3 separate regions of the Homo sapiens genome follow, and all the other regions are reported to be linked to region 1. The links are microRNA targets in miRTarBase. Many come from high-throughput screens and were not tested one by one. Region 1 holds a microRNA gene; each other region holds the end of a gene's coding sequence.

The links. The annotated mature microRNA hsa-miR-635 reads ACUUGGGCACUGAAACAAUGUCC and lies in region 1 at 3,452-3,474, shown strand. An mRNA with a match to its seed (bases 2 to 7 or 8) in the 3' UTR can be bound and repressed. Matches are read on the target gene's strand: a 7mer-m8 pairs with bases 2 to 8, a 7mer-A1 pairs with bases 2 to 7 and ends in A, and an 8mer does both.
Region 2: miRTarBase lists HM13 as a target of hsa-miR-635. The part of its 3' UTR that is shown has no 7-base or 8-base seed match.
Region 3: miRTarBase lists SEMA7A as a target of hsa-miR-635. Seed matches in the 3' UTR shown: 7mer-A1 at 6,068-6,074 and 8mer at 5,997-6,004.

The regions. Positions count from the first base shown.
Region 1 is chr17:68,422,985-68,427,984 of GRCh38, reverse strand. It overlaps MIR635 (microRNA 635), which reads left to right and starts at 3,437; the gene lies at 3,437-3,534. It overlaps WIPI1 (WD repeat domain, phosphoinositide interacting 1), which reads left to right. Exons shown (of 13, transcript NM_017983.7): 11 at 732-850; 12 at 1,810-1,910. It also overlaps a transcript of ARSG not described here and a transcript of PRKAR1A not described here.
Region 2 is chr20:31,567,327-31,574,277 of GRCh38, forward strand. It overlaps HM13 (histocompatibility minor 13), which reads left to right. Exons shown (of 13, transcript NM_178581.3): 12 at 752-898; 13 at 1,794-2,217. The coding sequence ends at 1,893. HM13-AS1 (HM13 antisense RNA 1) reads right to left here and starts at 5,937. Exons shown (of 3, transcript NR_046853.2): 1 at 5,816-5,937; 2 at 5,473-5,597; 3 at 261-622. LOC107985416 (a long non-coding RNA gene) reads left to right here and starts at 5,684. Exons shown (of 3, transcript XR_005647051.2): 1 at 5,684-6,112. RefSeq lists enhancers at 1-213, 5,294-5,835 and silencers at 2,280-2,574, 5,637-6,216.
Region 3 is chr15:74,404,308-74,410,978 of GRCh38, forward strand. SEMA7A (semaphorin 7A (JohnMiltonHagen blood group)) reads right to left here. Exons shown (of 14, transcript NM_003612.5): 14 at 4,982-6,671. The coding sequence ends at 6,317. Among named protein-coding and RNA genes, the nearest start is that of MIR6881, 3.8 kb to the right of the region's middle. RefSeq lists enhancers at 1-34, 1,454-1,503, 1,614-1,713, 4,933-5,433, 5,077-5,336 and 1 more.

The sequences.
Region 1 (5,000 bases):
CAGGAAGGTCAAGACTGCAGTAAGCTGTGGTCACACCACTGCACTGCAGCCTGGGCAACAGAGTGAGACCCTGTCTCAAAAAAGAAAAGAAAACAAAAGAAAAGCACTCATGCCTTCTGTGAACAGGCACAGACTGAGCTCTCCTGCTGTGGCCAGGGCACCAGAGCTGCCACCGCCCCCCACCGATGGCTGCTCTCCTTGCTAGCATGTCCTCACCTGTGTGTACTGGGAAGAGCAGAGGACTAATCTTTGTCTAGCCAATGTAAGAGAAAGAGGCCATTTTGACGGTGTGTGACTGCCCCTGGCAGTTGCAGGTCACTTCAGCTCATCCTGGCCCAGCAGCGTGTGGGTAGGTCTACAATTTAAACCCACAGAGTTGGCGGGCGGATCACCTGAGGTCAGGAGTTCGAGACCAGCCTGGCCAACATGGTGAAACCCAGTCTCTACTAAAAATACAAAAATTAGCCAGGCGCTGTGGTGGGTGCCTGTAGTCGCAGCTACTCGGGAGGCTGAGGCAGGAGAATCGCTTGAACCCAGGAGGCGGAGGTTGCAGTGAGCCGAGATTGCGCCACTGCACTCCAGCCTGGGCAATAGAGCAAGACCCTGCCTCAAAAATAAATAAATAACCCACAGAGCTGAGCACAGGCTTCTTCATGCTTTTCCTTTGGAAGGTGTCCTAGATATATGATGATTTCTTTTTTCTTTCACCTCCTCTTGATTGTCACAAGTAGCTTGCTTGGCTCAGGAACAACAGAAGAGAATAAAGAAAATGACCTCAGACCTTCCTTACCTCAGTCTTATGCAGCGACCGTAGCCAGACCAAGTGCATCTTCAGCCTCCACGGTGCCAGGTGGGTGGACACGGGGCCAACAGGGGAGCATCTCCAACAGTGACCTCCCTCCCCTTCTCCCTGCACGCTCCCTCCCCTTCCCCCTTCACTGTTACCTGGGGGTGGAGTGCCCTCCCTCCCCTTCCCCCTTCACTGTTACCTGGGGGTGGAGTGCTCTCCTTGAATTTTTTATTTTCTCACAGGTGAGGCCATGGTAATAGCCTTTAAACCTGGGACCCTCAACCTGGCAAGGCATCACACGATACGGTCTTTTTCCTAACAAGTGGTGTTAACCCTTTGCCTCTTCAAAAATTCCAATGAGGCCAGGCACATTGGCTCACACCTGTAATCCCAGCACTTTGGGAGGCTGAGGCCAGCGGATCACTGGAGGCCAGGGGTTTGAGACCAGCCTAGCCAACATGGTGAAACCCCATCTCTACTTAAAAAATAGAAAAATTAGCTGGGCATGTTGGCACACACTTGCAATCCCAGCTACTCCGGAGGCTGAGGCAGGAGAATTGCTTGAACCAGAGAGGCGGAGATTGCAGTGAGCTGAGATCATACCACTGCACTCCAGCCTGGGTGAAAGAGTGAGACTCTGTTTCAAAAAATAAAAACTAAACTAAAATTTCCAAAGAGCCTGTAGTCCTAGCCACTCAGGAAGTTAAATTGAGGCAGAAGGATCCCTTAGGCTCAGGAGTTCGAGACCAGCCTGGGCAACATACTGAGACCCTACCTCAACAAAGAAAAATTCAAAGAGGTAGGATGCCTCAGGCATCTGAAGTGGAAAGGCAGGTCAGGCTTAAAGATGGCAGATGGTGAGGATTATGACTTGTCCTAGGCACAGTACCTCCAGGGGGAAGACAGACAGCCCCTTTGCTTCCTTTGCCCTTTATTTGAGCCCCCGCTCCCCACCCGCCAGGTCATGGCATAAAAGCAGATCCCCAGTGCTTGTTTCATGTCTCTTTCTTGGTTTCCAGGTTATTCTGAGGACGGCGGGGCGCTGCGAGGAGAAGTTATTCCTGAACATGAGTTTGCGACGGGACCAGTGTGTCTTGATGATGAGAATGAGTTTCCTCCTGTGAGCATTAGGAACCCGTAACTGGGCGGCTCAGTCTGTGTGCTTAGAAGGAAACCTTCGCCTCATACGAGAGGCAGAGTCCCTTTCCCTGTTTTCTAATCTATAACAACTAATTCTCTGCTCTAGTATTTGGAAAGCCATAGGATATTTGTTGTACTGTGTGCTTCGAATCCTACAGAGTAGGCTTTAGGTGTCGAGCTAAACCCTGATGGCATTAGAGTCACCGAATACTAATCCAGGGAGTCTTGGTGGCCTCCCTCCAGCCAGAGGCCTGCGATCCCTTACTTTGCTTCTGTAGCACTGACTTTGCTGCCTGGAAGGTAGGAACACGTGACTTGTCTAAAACTTATTTTCCTGAGGCTCCCATGGATGCGTTTGCAGAATGCTGCCTTCCTTGTGCTGGAGGGGATGGTTTCAGAGGGCTGGGCTGTGTGTTCAGGACTCTGAGCTGAGTTGCTGCACTCTGTGAACCAGCTTGACCCTCACTTACCTGCAGCTCTGGCCGGCAGACCCGCACCTCCCCAGCAGTTGCAGACACTCATTAAGAAACAAGTGGCCGGGTGCGGTGGCTCACACCTGTAATCCCAGCACTTTGGGAGGCCGAGGCTGGAGGATTGCTTGAGCCCAGGAGTTAGAGACCAGCCTGGGCAACACAGCAAAACCCCATCTCCACCAAAAAAAAAAAAAAAAAAGAAAAGAAAAAATTAGCCGGGTGTGGTGTCACGTGCCTGTAGTCCCAGCTATTCGGGACGCTGAGATGGGAGGATCACCTGAGCCTGGGAGGTCGAGGCTGCAGTGAGCTCTGATTGTGCCACTGCACTCCAGCCTAGGTGAAAGAGTGAGACTCTATCTCAAAAAGAAAAGAAAAGCAATTGTGTGCTCTGTGGAGGGCAGCAGGTGCAGGGCAGGAGCTTGCCCGAGCACCTTTAGCTGGGTTTCCCAGCAACCTGCTCAGCCTGTTCCCACAGCTAGGGCCCTCGGGGCTGGCTGAGTGCTGGGCGTGGCTTCTTCCATCACCTGGAACTGAAGACAAGATTCCCTCCTGAGAGCCTGCTGGGGCTTCCTTAACTGCTGATTCTTCAGGCTCCCATCTGGAGTAACATATAGACCGCTCTTGTGAGCTTCAGTCAAAACATCCCAGATAGTCAACCTGAAATCATTTCGAGATGGAAGTACTGATTTGTTTTGTTTTGTTTTTGAGACGGAGTCTTGCTCTGTCACCCAGGCTGGAGTGCAGTGGTGTGATCTCGGCTCGCTGCAGCCTCTGCCTCCTGGGTTCAAGCAATTCTCCTGCCTCAGCCTCCCGAGTAGCTGCAATTACAGATGTGCGCCACCATGCCCAACTAATATTTTGTATTTTTAGTAGAGACGGGGTTTCACCATGTTGGTCACGCTGGTCTCAAACTCCTGACCTCAAGTGATCCACTCGTCTCGGCCTCCCAAAGTGCTAGGATTACAGGCGTGAACCGCCGCACCCGGCCGGAAGTAGTGTTTGGGCCAAGACTTGGAGCATCAGCTCCTAGAGCCAGAGAGGAGCTGCCACTTGGGCACTGAAACAATGTCCATTAGGCTTTGTTATGGAAACTTCTCCTGATCATTGTTTTGTGTCCATTGAGCTTCCAATTGTAAAAGGATGGAGTGCAGGTCTGGCTTCTTTCTCCCGCAGATCCGTGGAACCCTCTAGTGAGCACATTTGGCTTAGAAAACAAAGCTGCGGTGGGGCCCTGCATGCAGGGCTGGGGCTGTTGTTTTGTGATTTCCCACATCGGCTCTGCGGGTCGGTCGCAGCGTGAGCTTTTACATTTCTGGCTTTCAATAGGCAGGTTGTCAGAGACGTGGCTGGCAAGTGAAGTTTATATCTCAGTGGCGGAGAGCAGTTGTTCTTAAAAATACTAATTATAAACTTCAAAACCTCTGTTGGCATGCTGCCTAACTATAAACCAGTTGTTTTACCTTTGGGTTCTCATGGCCCCAACTGGCCTTAAAGGGCGTTCTTCTGCACCCTCAAGAGGCGGTGGTTATTTACCTGAAGTCGAGGCTTCCAGGATCCAGAGCACTCTAGGTCAGACACCGTGGGGACAAATGTGACCATTCTACTCTGTCAGGGTTTACCACATCCAGACACTCACTAGGTTCCGTTTCACTAATTTTGGTAAAAGTCTGTAACTACTATAAAATATTATTAGATTCTTAATTGTAATCGCAGTAAGCCTTGCAACCTCTTATAGTTACAGAATTGGGGTAATGTGGATATTAGTATCTAGGAGGTAGTTCCTTGCCAAAGAACCTGTATAAAATAATAGGTACCTTGTGCAGATCATTTATTTGGGGTAAAAAGGAAAAGGGGAGGTGCTTAATTGAAGAACCAGTAAGAAAGTTTGTCCTGAGGCCTGTGTGCCCATTCAGTGCCAGGAAGCTGGGCATGAGCCAGTTGTTTCTTCTCCCTCCTAAGGACCAAATGAGTGAAAGTTGGTTGAAATTGCATCAGGAATTCTTATTTATACGCAAGAAATACTTCCTGCCAGTGAGAGTGGTCACTGAACAAGGTCCCTAGAACAGGTGTTAGACCCTTGTGAGTGTCAAGCAGCCCCTGTGTGCAGGGCTGTGTCGTGGCAGCCACCAACCTCTCAGTCTGCCCTCCAGCCTGCAGGTAGATGGTGATGAGGGGCAGTGCTCCCACTAAGGCACTGTCTCAGTAGCAGGCAGGCTTCTCCATCTCACCATGTAAGGACCAGAGGCATGCATGCTCCTGGGATGCTCTATCAATATGGCCCATCTCAGTCATGCCTGAATTGGCAGAAATGTTCAGCGAGGGATGCTAGGGAACTTCCTCTCTGTCTCCTTATTCTGAATTGTCATGCCTATTGCAAATCTCTGTGCAGAATTCACATCTTTACTCACATTCCTTAAAATCTTCTAGGACCACAAAAGGCTCTTGGAGTCTCAGCTTGGTTAAAATCGCCTCTCTTGTAGTGACGAACAAACATAGGCTTGCCTGAGTAGTCTGCTACAGGAGCTCTGTGAGCCGCTGCCTTAAGAACGCGGGTCATCACTAGTGATCTTTTCAGAACACATACTGACACTTCCCTG
Region 2 (6,951 bases), not on the chromosome of region 1:
GGGGTAACCACCCAATGCTATTGTGCCCTCATCAGGCAAAGCTCTGAATACACAAGGCAGAGGGTGCCCCTGGCCTTTACCTGCTTGGTGCTAAATGCTCTGCCATACAGGTACCCTGCCCCCACTGTTTGCCCTCCACTCCCACCCTGGACATTCTTAGATTGGGGTAAAAAGCAAGTGATCTCTCTCTCTCTCTCTCTCCCTCCTTTCTCCCCATTTCTCTCCCAATTCTCCACCTTTTTACTTTTCCCTTCTATTCTCCTCCTTTTTTTATTGATTTACTTATTTTTATATTGGTACCACATTCACATAGTTAAAAATTCCAAAGCTGTAACAGAGAGAGCACCCTCATGCTCCAGCTACCCCACAGAGGCCAGCAGTGTTACACAGACATTCAGACACCTGTGCACTGATGTGTGTATACTTTTTCTTGCACAGACGGTGGCATTCTTGGAGCATTCTGCACATTGGGTTTCTACGGTATTTCTTAGAGGTGTTTCCACAGCAGCACATACACTTCTAGAGCATGCTTGTTCTTCTGCACAGTGGCCTGATGTGCCTTTGTCTAGGTGCATCTTTCTTTTTTCATTCTCCAAATAATATCAGCTTCTTTCCATAAAATCTGGAAGTGCAAAAATAGGTAAAAACAAGACAGTTCTGCTCTCTGCTCCTTGGAAAGGAAGTCTCTGTCCTCCCTTAGTCTTTCCCTATCCATCTCTTTTTTTCTGTCTCTTCTCTCTCTCTCACACAGCTACGAGTCCTCGGCGGAAATCCTGCCTCATACCCCGAGGCTCACCCACTTCCCCACAGTCTCGGGCTCCCCAGCCAGCCTGGCCGACTCCATGCAGCAGAAGCTAGCTGGCCCTCGCCGCCGGCGCCCGCAGAATCCCAGCGCCATGTAATGCCCAGCGGGTGCCCACCTGCCCGCTTCCCCCTACTGCCCCGGGGCCCAAGGTAGGGCAGACACTGCAGCTCCAGTGCATAGGGCAGGGACCATTGCCAGGAGTAGGCCGCAAGAGCAGCTCCTCCACAACCACCAGGCAGTGGTTGCACCGAGCCATAGGGCTGGGAAGCAGGACAACCCCGAAGCTTCCTGCCCTCACCAGTAATGCGGGGCCCACATCATAGTGGATGGAAATGGCCCTTGTCATGCAGTAGTAGATACTGTTACCATTCAAGGTATATGTATAACCTTAGGCAAGTTACTTTCTTCATCTGTAAGTGGGCACATTCCTGCCTCACGGGGTTTATCTGGTGAGGAAAGATTTGTATTATCTTTGGCATGAACTCAGTTGCTTGAAAAATGAAGCCCATAGAAGAAGCTAAGCCAGGGTGTCTGTCTTCAGAGCAGCACCTTGCCGCTTGCCAGTACAGCAGTGCCCTCACCTCTGGGGCTGAGCTGTTTGATTCATGCTGTGTGCCCTGGGAGGCAGCCTATCTCCATCTCTTGTAGCCTTGTCATGGCCACCCCTTTTTCCACGCTACAGCAGAAGGTTCAGGAAGCTTGAAATCAGCCCACACAAGCCCAGGCCCAACCTCTCTTCCATTGGCTGCTGCCCTTGCTGCCTCCTGGTACCCCCAGGCTCAGAGAAAGCAGAGCAGCCTGCCTGAGGAGGGCATGTGGTAGGGCTGGGGCCAGGCGCTGTTAGGTGCTGGGCAGTGGACACAGGGCTGACGCTCTGCATGTGACCAGGCGCTTTCCTAGGATGGGGGTGGGGGAAGGGGACAACCAAGGTTCTGCTCACCCTCTCCTCTAAATGAATTTTTATTGTTGTTTTTTTTTTTTTGGTCAGTTATGAGGAGTCAAATCCTAAGGATCCAGCGGCAGTGACAGAATCCAAAGAGGGAACAGAGGCATCAGCATCGAAGGGGCTGGAGAAGAAAGAGAAATGATGCAGCTGGTGCCCGAGCCTCTCAGGGCCAGACCAGACAGATGGGGGCTGGGCCCACACAGGCGTGCACCGGTAGAGGGCACAGGAGGCCAAGGGCAGCTCCAGGACAGGGCAGGGGGCAGCAGGATACCTCCAGCCAGGCCTCTGTGGCCTCTGTTTCCTTCTCCCTTTCTTGGCCCTCCTCTGCTCCTCCCCACACCCTGCAGGCAAAAGAAACCCCCAGCTTCCCCCCTCCCCGGGAGCCAGGTGGGAAAAGTGGGTGTGATTTTTAGATTTTGTATTGTGGACTGATTTTGCCTCACATTAAAAACTCATCCCATGGCCAGGGCGGGCCACTGTGCTCCTGGAAGATTCTCTGTTTAAGCACCCAGTGTCTTGCCCTGGGTTTTCTAGGTCTCACCTGCCCACCCAAAATCTTTTCTGCAAGCCCCTTAAGGGTGCCCACCCCAGTGCCTGGCCAGCCCTGCACCCGTAAAACACCTTTTAGCCAGTAGAGGGGGCCCACGAGCCCTCTCTCACCAGCTAGCACTTTTCTCACCACCTTCCTCGAAATACTTGGGGGCAGCAAGGGTGTTGGCAGATGAGAGTCTCCCACTCACCATGGTGAGAGTGGTGGGGAGTACCCAGGGCTGACCTGACTCACAAGGGAAGCAGTAACTGTAGAACCTGCCAGCCTCCCTGGTCCCTGTGCCCATATGGCTTCGGCTGATGAGGGCTCAGACTCTAGGTTGCCCTGAAGATCAAGGCTTTGTCTCCCATTCTGCCCATTCCTGGGTTTCTTCCCAAAATGACTACTGTGGGGCCAGTCATGGCACAAGGGCCAGGACCTCTAGAGGCTGGGGTGGGGAAGGACTGAGCTAGTGATTCTTAGAGGCCTTCTGGGGCCTAAGAGCTGAAATCTCAGCGCCCGGGTTTCCCTAAAGTTTGCTGAAGACAGCAGCCCCGGCCAGCAGGAGACCGACCGGGCACCACCCCAAACCAGGCAAACGGTGGCCACAACCCTCATCCACCCACCTGGTATGAGGTCACTGAGTGGGGAAACAGACAGGAGCGGGTGGCCACCATACTGACAGACCCGGGGCTCTCCCTTGCCCAAGCTTCAGGTTCAAAGGCTGAAAATAACAGTGGCTTCCAGTTTGGAAGTGGCCAAAGGACAATCATGACCAGAGACTCAGGAGTATGACTGTAATACCCTCACTAGGTATTGACATGCACTAAGCACCTTGATATAGGATTTCACTTCCTTCTGAGTCTTGGGCTGTATGTGCTATTATTCGCTCCGCTGTGCAGATGAGGGAATTGAGGCAGCTTGCCCATGGACATCGATTTGACCTTAGCCAAGCCAAACAATTCCAGGTTCCTAAGGACCGCAGCTCCTCCCCAGACCCCTGGGACCAAGTCACTGGCTGGTGTGCTGGGCATCCCTGAGCCCCAGCCACCCAATTTTACTGGCTCCAGGGTTCTATAGGAAGGAAAAGGGGTAGAAAATTTCAAAAGGCTTCTTCCTTTCAGGGAGGGGGGTTCCCTTTCAGGGGCTTCTGGAATCTCTACCCACTCCAGCCAACTCTGAGGCCATGTGGTCCTGGAACAAGGCCCCTCTGAGGCAGATGGGGCAGGCGGCCCAGGCACATAGCATGGTTGGCTCTGCGGCCCAGGGCGCACAAAGGCCTTATTGAGTCACCACCAGCCCCCGGCAGAGGCTGAGGTGGCAGTGGCGCCGAGCGCCTGCCACCTAATGACTGTCCTGGTCCAGCCAGATGTTCCACAGACCTCCGGAGCAGCGGACTAGGGCCCGCCCGGCCAGCCGGCACCGCAGAGGCCACTGTAATTCCAATTAACCAGCTTCAGCTGAGCAAACAGCGGGCAGTGGTGGCCCAGCCCAGGCGGTAGGCCTGGCCCGCAGAGCCTGCGAGTCTAGACTCCAGATGTGAACCGCCACCATCAGAGTCCCATGGAAAAATGGCACCAGGCCGGGCAAGGATTGGGCCTGCATGCTGGGGAGGGGGTGTGGGTGGTTGGGCAGGGCCCCGAGTGGGCTAGATGCCAGCCTCACCTGGTTTGGGGTGGATTATTAGGAAACTGCTCTAGAACCCAAGTTCTACCCTGCTTTATTAGATTCTGTTTCTGTGCCTCAGTCTCCCATGACTGCGACAAGAGAGAGGGTTCCAAGGGGAAAACCAGCCCTGCTGAGACCCCAGTGTGCACTGACTGTATTTCACGTGACTAGCATTATGCTAGTGCAACTGACCCTTGAACAACACAGGGATTAGGGGCACCAACCCATCATGGTCGAAAATCTGTATAACTTTTCAGTCCCGCAAAACAACTAATAGTCTGCTGTTGACCAGAAGCCTTACCTGATAACATAAACAGTCAAAACATCTTGTATGTTATACGTACTACACTGTCTACCATAGAGTAAGCTAGAGAAAATGTAATTAAGAAAATCCTAAGAGCCAGGCATGGTGGCTCATGCCTGTAATCCCAGCATTTTGGGAGGCCAAGATGGGCAGATCAGGAGGTCAGGAGATCGAGACCATCCTGGCTAACATGGTGAAACCCCCGTTTCTACTAAAAATACAAAAAATTAGCCGGGCATGATGGCAGGCGCCTGTAGTCTCAGCTACTCGGGAGGCTGAGGCAGGAGAATGGCCTGAACCCGGGAGGCAGAGCTTGCAGTAAGCCGAGAGAGGCAGGCGGATCACAAAGTCAGGAGTTCGAGACCAGCCTGGCCAATATGGTGAAACCCCGACTCTACTAAAAATACAAAAATTAGCCTGGCATGGTGGCAGGCGACTGTAGTCCCAGCTACTCAGGAGGCTGAGGTGGGAGAATCACTTGAACCCAAGAGGCGGAGGTTGCAGTGAGCCAAGATTGCACCACCGCACTCCAGCCTGGGGGACAGAGTGAGACTCCGTCTCAAAAAAAAAAAAATTATTCAGTGAAAGTGGATCATCATAAATAAAGATCTTCATCCTGGTCTCTGTGTTGAGGAAGAGGAGGGGGTTGGTCTTGGTGTCTCAGGGGTGGCAGAGGTAGAAAAAAAGTCCACGTTTAAGTGCACCTGCACAATTGAAACCCGTGTTCAAGTTTCAAATGTATCTTAAGATTTACTTAATCGTTGTAACAACACTTTGAGGTACCTACATCATTCTTACGATGGGGAAACTGAGGCAGAGACCGTAAGGGCGGGCCCAGGGGGCATGTGAACCCAGAGTGTCTGGCTTCCAAGACTCGTATTCACCGTGGTGCCGTTTGACATGATCAGGATAATGGATCCCTGGTTCCTTTTGGGGGCAGCATTGGAGAAGGGGGTTTGGCACCGTCAGTCTGACAGCAGGGCTGGCTCCTGCAGTGTGAATGAAGCGGTCTTGTGCTCGACTGTGAAGGGGGGTTAGGACCTGCTTCCCAGGGCGGGTCCAGCTTTCTGAGGGAAAGCCTTCAGAGCCTCCATCAGGCCGGCACCAGGTACCAGTTAAGCACTGGGCAGGGAACAGAAGTGGTCAAACGCCGCTTGCCGCGACTTGAAACTGCTGAATAAATGGATAATGTCAAGCGCTATGGCTTAGGGCAGTAGTACCTCCGGTTCCTACGATCGTGTCTGGGGTCCCTGAGGAGCAAGGCAAGAGTCGGCCATTCAGGAGGTCAGAGTTCAGCTGTTCTTGCACAAGCAGGGAAGCTGAGTCACCCCAAACACGGGCAAGACTAGCGGTGGTATCAAATGGCTATCAGGGGCGGGGCCTCAGGGGCCTGCCCCTGCCTCCCCGCCCTGCGTTTGGATTCCCTCCAGCATTCCGGGCCAGGGCGCGGGAGGCGGAGGCCGAGGAGAGGACGGGAGGAGGCTGCATCCTGCCCTGGTGCGTCAGGAAGGGCCGAGCGAGCGGGAAGGAAAGCACCACCCCCCACCCCCGCCGCGGCCACACCTGGGTTCTCCAGGCGGGCAGGGGGGCCCCCGGGCCGGCGCCTGGCTCCAGCAAGTCTGGGCCGCCTCCCCGCGCCGCCCCGCGGGGGCCGCCAGATGGGCTGCCCGCCCGCCAGCTCAGCGACGCAGGCAGGAAACGCCGGCCGGGCTGCCAGGAACGCGCGCAGGGGAGGGGGCGGGCCCGGCCGGGCCACGCCCGCCGGAGGGGAAGGAGGGGCCAAGCACCGCCCGGCGGGGACTGGTGAGCTCCAAGAGCCTGCGATCCCGGTCCCTGCCTTTACTAGATGGGTTTCCTTGGGTAGGTCGTTTTACTTCTCTGTGCCTCACTTTCCCTACCTGTAAAGCGGGGCTGCCTGTCTCCGCTCTTTTTCCCTTTTCTCTTTTATTTGTGCAGCAGGGTTTCACTCTGTCGCCCAGGCTGAAGTGCAGTGGCGCGATCACGGCCCACTGCAACCTCGACCTCCTGGGCTCAAGCGATCCTCCCACCTCAGGTGGGAATATAGGTGTGTCCCACCACGCCTGGCTTTTTTTTTTTTCCCCTAGTTGAAACGGCGGTTCTCACTCTTGCTCAGGCTGGTCTCGAACTCAGGCTCAAGCAATCTTCCCACCTCGGCCTCCCAAAGTGCTGGGATTAGAGGCGTGAGCCACCGCGCCGTGCCTCAGCTATTTTCGTGTGACCGTGTGATCTCAGGACACTTTCTTTCCCTTCTCTTCCTTGGTTTTCTTACCTGAAAAATGGGGTGAACAATTGAACCTCCCTCAACCATGGGCTAAGCCTTTGTTTTCCTCTCCACCGTAGCCCCAACACTTGGCCCATTGCCTGAAACATGAAGGCACTCAGTATTTGTTGTAAGAGTGACTATAAAGGTTTGGGACAATCCTGAGGGCCTGGCTACAGCAGGCACTTCATAAATGGACACAAATTATCAAATTACCTAGAGTCTAATGTTTACCAACCTGCGGCTTCAGGCAAGTGACTTCCCATCTCTGAGCTTCACTTTCCTCGTCTACATAATGGCTGTGAGGATTAAGTAAAATAAATAAATACATGGAAATCACACATAGTGTGTTCTCAATAGATATTTATGGAAGAGTCTCCAAAATATTAAAAAAAGGGAGATACTATTTTGAGTAAAT
Region 3 (6,671 bases), not on the chromosome of region 1:
AGTATCCCCAGCACCCTAGATAGGCAAACACCCACAAGAAGTGATTTCCATACCATTTGCACACTGCCCTGCTTCCTGATCAGAAGGAACGGAAACGTTCCCTTTCAGAAGACCCTCAGCGGAGCAGTGCATTCACCAGAGTCCACTTTCACCTGCCCCACTGGGTATCAGGAGAGTCCCAGGAGAGCGACACAAGCTCTAAAGTCAGAAAGCACAAACGGGGGTTGTTAGCACTGTGGTGTAGCATCCGCTAGGCTCGGGGTAGCAAATAAGTTCCATCTGATCAATTGCTGGTGACTCCTAAGGAGAAATGCTGGTGAGGATCCATTCATTCATTCCACAAATAATTTACTGACCACCTACTGTGTGCTAGGTGCTACTCTAGGTGCTATGAAATTTAGCTGTGAACAAAAAAAGACAAAATTCCCTGCCCCCGCAGAGCAGATATTCCGTAACAGTGTTGTCCAACAGAAATACAATATGAGCCACACACATAATTTAAAATGTTCCAGTAGCCACACTAGATAAAAGTTAAAGAAGACCAGGAGCGGTGGCTCACGCCTGTAATCCCAGCATTTTGGGAGGCCAAGGCGGGCAGATCATTTGAGGTCAGGAGTTGGAGACCAGCCTGGCCAACATGGTGAAACCCCGTCTCTACTGAAAATACAAACATTAGCCGGGCGTGGTGGCGGGCGCCTGTAATCTCAGCTACTCGGGAGGCTGAGGTAGGAGAATCGCTTAACCTGGGAGGCGAAGGTTGTGGTGAGCCAAGGTCCTGCCACTGCACTTCATTCTGTGCTACAGAGCAAGACTCCATCTAAAAAACAAAACAACAACAACAAAAAAAGTTAAAGAAATAGGTGGAATTAATTTTTGTATGTTATCTAGCCAAATATATCTTATATCTGAAATATTATCATTTCTTTTTTTCTTTTTTTTTTGAGACAGAGTTTCATTCTTGTTGCCCAGGCTGGAGTAAAATGGAGCAATCTCAGCTCACTGCAACCTTTGCCTCCCAGGTTCAGGCGATTCTCCTGCCTCAGCCTCCCAAATAACTGGGATTACAGGTACACGCCACCATGCCCACCTAATTTTTGTATTTTTAGTAGAGACAGGGTTTCACCATGTTAGCCAGGCTGGTCTCAAACTCCTGACCTCAGGTGATCTACTGACCTCAGCCTCCCAAAGCTCTGGGATTACAGGTGTGAGCCACCACGCCCAACCTCTAATATTATCATTTCAAAGTGTAATCGATGTAAAAATTTAAGGTCATTTTTTTCATATTATGTTTTCAAAATCCAGTGTGTTGTTTATACTTACAGCACATCTCAATTCAGATGAGCCCTATTTCAAGTGCCCAGTAGCCCCCAGAGAATGCAAGTTCTGAAGAAAATCACTCATATGAGCTCAGGAAAGGAATGCCACAATTGATCAGCAATGCCTGCTCCAGGCATAGGCTACAGCTGAATCAAGCTGCAAGCCATGTGTTTCCCCACCATGATATAGGCTCAGCCCCAAAGGACGTGTTCACCTCTACCTAAGCCCTTCTGAGCTCATTTATTTTGCCCAACTTGAAAGAACTGCCAGAGTTCTGGGACCTTGACTTGGTTCGAGTGCAGCGGTTCTGGTGTGAACACCACCCTACAGAAACGCCCCAGCATACTAACAGGGCCAGCGCCTCCCGAGTGTGGTTCTGTGCTCCTTCCCTTGGTGGGGGCTGACTCATGGCCATTGGTGACCCTGAGAATGTGGATTTTGTTTTTGTTTTTCTCCCAAGGTCTCTTCCTCCCAGAGTTAACCAATATTGAGATAAAAGTGTTTCCGAGCCAGATTTAGCCATTTCAGCCCCATTCCACTGGCCCAAGCCTACAGACCTCCTGTCTGGCACTGTAGCCAGGATGGCTGCACTTTCTTTTCCAGTAAGCAGAAGGCTAAAATTGGACCATTTAAGGAGCTAGAAACACCTGGAAATGGTGAGGAGTGGGTCTTTGGTGTAAGAGATGGGGTGTAAGAAAACACGGATCTCAGGCTCCCATTATCCTCACCATTATTATCATTATCATCTACCCCACCCCTGCTCAAAATCCTTCAATTGCTCCCTAGTGTCTGCAGGATAAAGATCTTGCTTTAGTTCCCAGGATCGGGAACTGCTGGAGTCATCCAGTCTCACCTCTAGATACTCTCCCTTCTCTCATCTTATTCATTCATTCAGTAAGAATGTCCTGAGCACCTAATATGTGCCAGGCACTGTTCTAGGTACTAGAGATACAGCTGTGAACAAAACTGCCAAGGATTTCTGGCTTCATGGAGCTCACTTTACTCCAGCGAGCCCATAACACCCCAGGCCCTCTCACACTCCCAGGCCTTTGTAAATGCTGTTCCCTCTCCATTCAGTCACTCTCCTCCTGGGGAACTTCTACACATCCTCTAAGGCCCTACTCAAAGCCTTCCCTGAGCACTCCGCTCAATGGGTTAGGTTCCTCCTCTGAGCTCCCACCTCCCACCTAGGACCGTCACACGTATGGTCACTGTCCAGCCCACAGCCCTTCCCTACCAGGCTTTAAGTGTCTCCAGGGCAGGGGCTGTGCCTTCTCCCCCAGGGACCCCAGAGCTTGCTTCCAGGTGCACCCTCCCAAAGATCAGGAGTGAACAGGCTGAGGCATTAGTGTAGGGGGGATCCAGGATTCCTCTGGAGAATTCCATGTCATTCTGAAATCTTTGCCTGGGAGCATCTTCCTCCTGGCATTCCAGGGGAGGGAATCACAGGAGCAAATGCAGAGCGGTTCCAGCAAAGGAAGGTAGAAGTCTGAGGAGAGATGGGAAGGGTATGATTTGATGTAGCAGAGAGACAAGAGGACAGCAGCCTTCCCTCGGGGAGAGAGGATGACAGGACATGTGGATGGGGGATAAACCGTAATGACTCTACATTCCTAAAGTGGGAGGGAGGCAGAACGAAATCTGCAGTTCCCTGCTGCCTTCCCCAGGAGAGCTGAGCTTTCAGTCTCGTCCCTCTTCCTCCTCCCCAACGAGAATGCACAAGAGAGGGGAGAAGGATGGGCCTGGTTCCTGCCCCTGGCCTGGCTCTGGTCCCTGGCCTGGCCCTCAAGAAGCCAGTGCTGGGACTGTGGATATCGTGTGGTTATGGCTAGAGCAGATCCTCCCACCACCCGGGCCCAGCCTAACCGTCCTGCCCACACACCGCCAGCTAGAGGCCTGCTGTGCTGCTTGTCCATTGGGGAAAACAGGGCAGGAGGCTTGTGCCTGGCTGGCCTCATCCCTGCCAGCTCATTTACATGGAATTTACACGGGCTCATTTCATGCCTTAATGCACACGGCTTCCCTCCCAGCCCAGCCTCTCCTGGTGCCTCCACAGAGACAATGGAGTGGGTTCCATCACTCAAATCCCCTGCCATGGACCCATCAGAGCACCAGGAGCATCTCTGGAAAGAGGGAGGCTGCTGAGGCCCAGAGAGGACAGGGAACTCAGTGGAGACCACCAGCAGCACTCCAGGAGGGACCAAGGCTTAAGCCCACACTTTGTCCACTCGCCGCTCAGACCATTTGGGGCTGGAATTCACTCCCATCCTTTGCTTTGCCACCAGCCTCCAGCTTGCTGAGCAGGAGCCTGTGAAACCCCCATCCTGATGCCGATGCTTGGCTGTGCACTGGAATACAGACGGACTGGGACAGACGAGATGTGCAGGAAAGGGTCCACAGAAGCCCAGGTCCAGCCCTGCCTTTTACACAGGAGAGAAATGAGGCTCGGGAAAGGCGAGGGTCTGCCCAGGACCACAAACGCCAAAAATGGTGGCAGCAGCCCCAGGTCTCTGCCCCAGCTGCCCAGGGCTCTTCTGGGTCCCCCAAACTCCCAAAGACCCCTGGTCCCATGTACCTGCTGAGACCTTGGTCCCCCAGGGCATGCCGAGTGTTGGGGGAGAAAAGGATGGGGAGAATCCTCAGGAATGGGCTGGCTATGAGAGTGCAGAGCAAACTGAAGTGGGAGGGAGCACTATGGGTGGGGGCAATTCCAGTCCTGTGGGGTTTGCCAGAGCCAACCAGAAGCTGGGCTCGGACAGAGAAGTAAACTGCCCCAAGTCTGCCATGGACCCCTCCAGCAGTCACTGCTCAGGAAAAACGCCTAGCAGACCCCAAAGGCCTAGGTCCTTGCCTCCAGGGACAGGGGACAGAGAAGGGAACAAGGGGGAGGGGAGGCCTCTGGGCTTCTATCTGGACTTCTATCTGCAGTGCTCCCTACTGTCCCTGCCCTTCATCCCAGGACCACTGCTCTCATCCTGACCTCCACCCGCCACCAGACAGCCTCCTAACTAACTCCCCTGCATCCTTCCACCCCAGCCTCAGAGGCTCCTTCCTGCATAAACTTCTGTGTTCTAAAACCTATTTACTTGATCTTGGAGGGAGTCCTGAGTTTCTACAACTCAAATCCTACCTCATCACTCATAAACCCTCCCCACAGGTCCCTCCCTACTCTCCAACCCTCACCCAGACCCCTACCCTGCCTGGAGCAAATCCCATTCCCACATCTCTTCAGCCGGCACCAGCCTCCTGCACACACACTCAAGGCCACAGCATCCCACAGGGTCGCATTTGATCAGCTTGCCCTCCAGAACTGCCCCTTGAAGGCAGGGAGTCCTGAGGCTGTTTCTAGCATGACCCAGGCCAGGCCTTCCAGGGGGAAGTGGTGGGAGGTGAAGGCTGGGAATGGGGAAAAGGGGTGCACGTGCTATTGGGGCTCTGGGGTCAAGGCTCGAGCAAGCAGCACGCTGCTGAGGAGTCGTGGGTTCAGGTCCCCATTCCTGCCTCTCACTAGCTACAGCCCTGCTGAGCTGGCTCCTGGGCCCTAACCAGGACATGAAAGAATGCATGTGATGCTCACGCAGCCAGGGGGTGGCGAGTAATAAACAGGAGCCCCCACCAACACCCCCTGACCAGGACAGCTTTGCAGGCAAGGAACAGGCGCAGGTAAATAAATAGCTTGTTTATTAGTAATATGTTACATTATTAAAGTGCATTGAGAAGAGGTGCAGGGGCCAAAGCTGGAAGGCCACTGGCCCCAGCCACTGCCCTGGGTGGCCAGACACAGCCGGAGAAGGGCCCAGCTCCCCCCTGAAATGGATGGACAGGGCTGGGGGCAGGGCCGCCTGCCTGGAGAGCTCGGCCCAGGCCATCCCCACCGGAATTTTCACAGTTTAGCCTAAGTTATAACATGTCCTGAGCGAAGGTGGGAGGCTAGGAGCATGGAAGCACAGCCCCTGGGGAAGGGGGCTGAGAGGAAGGGAGGAGGCCCCCCGCCCCCCAACCCTCAACGCCAAGGGCAGAGTCCTGGAACCTCCCCCTGAGGACCCGGCTCGTCCTTCCAAATGAACACGGTGAAACTAGGGCTCAGTTTTCTCCTTCATTCTCCCGTTTCCCTCACCCCACCCCCTCCCATAACCACCCCCAACACTAGGGGCTCCAACAACGTCCCCCTCAGACCGGGCTCCCAGGGCAGAGCCAGCTCATGCCACTCTCCAAGAACCCATGCCCGTCTCCAGACTCTTATCTCATCCCCGGGAGCCTCAGACTGGGATCACCCCCGCTCCCCAACCCATCCCTTCCCAGCCCCTCCCTTTCCCACCCACCCCCCCGCATGTAGTTTTGGTATTTTCATACAGATGCAGTCGGAAGTAGCTATACATGAAATAAGCCTAACATAAAAATAGAGCTTTTTCCGTCCTTCCGTCCGGAAAGCAAACATCCTTCAATAAACATGCAAGGCGGCTGTCCTGTGGGACCCAGGACCAGAGAGGGAGCTGCAGAGGACAGGGCTGGACAGAGGGTAGCCCTGGGTCTTCAGGAACACCAGCCACCCAGCCATGAGAGAGGGAGGGGAAGGAGGCAATGTGGGTACCAAGAGTCCAGAAGGACTCAGGCCTCAGCCCCAGGGTCGAGATGGAGTCCCAGCTCTCCTATCCAAACCCACTCCCCGACCCATGGGCTCTTGGGCTGGGAGCATCGCTGCATTTAGTCAAGTTTGAGGAGTCTGAAAAATATTTTCCAGAAGATAAAGTCTTGGGTCATCGATGCCCCAGCTTCACAGTCGGTGCCCTCATTCTCAGCCCCTCACCATCCGTGCGCCACCTGGGGCCCAGCAGCCGCCTGCGGCTGGACGTCTCCAGGCCTGGCATCCTCCACTGGGTTATTCTGTCCCCTGGAAGAAGTGGCAGGCAAGGAGCTCCCGGGCCAGCCGGCTCTGAGTGTGAGACGTTCTAGTGCCCTGGGCTGCAGAAGCCTGAGGCATGCCCAGCCTCGGGAGGCCCTAGTGGACCAGCAAGCCAAGAGTGAGTGTGGGCAGCACCCCCAGCCAGAGGGAGGCGGCCAGGGCACAGGCATGACCCAGCAGGTGCTCGGCCATGATGCCGTCCTCGGGCAGCAGCTGCCAGTGCTGAGCCTCGCGGAAGTAGGAGCCCTCCTGGGCCTCGCAGAAGTAGTGGCCGTACTGCTGCGCCGTGAGGTTCTCGATGAACAGGATGCAGTTGGGGCTCTGGTGACCAGGTTCGCAGCTCTGCTCCACGTTCTCCTTGTGGCGCCATGAGTAGGTGGCGTGGCGGGATTCCATGGGGCAGCTCAGGTAGTAGCGAGAGTTTGGGGCCAGGGAAACCTTCTGCAGTGGG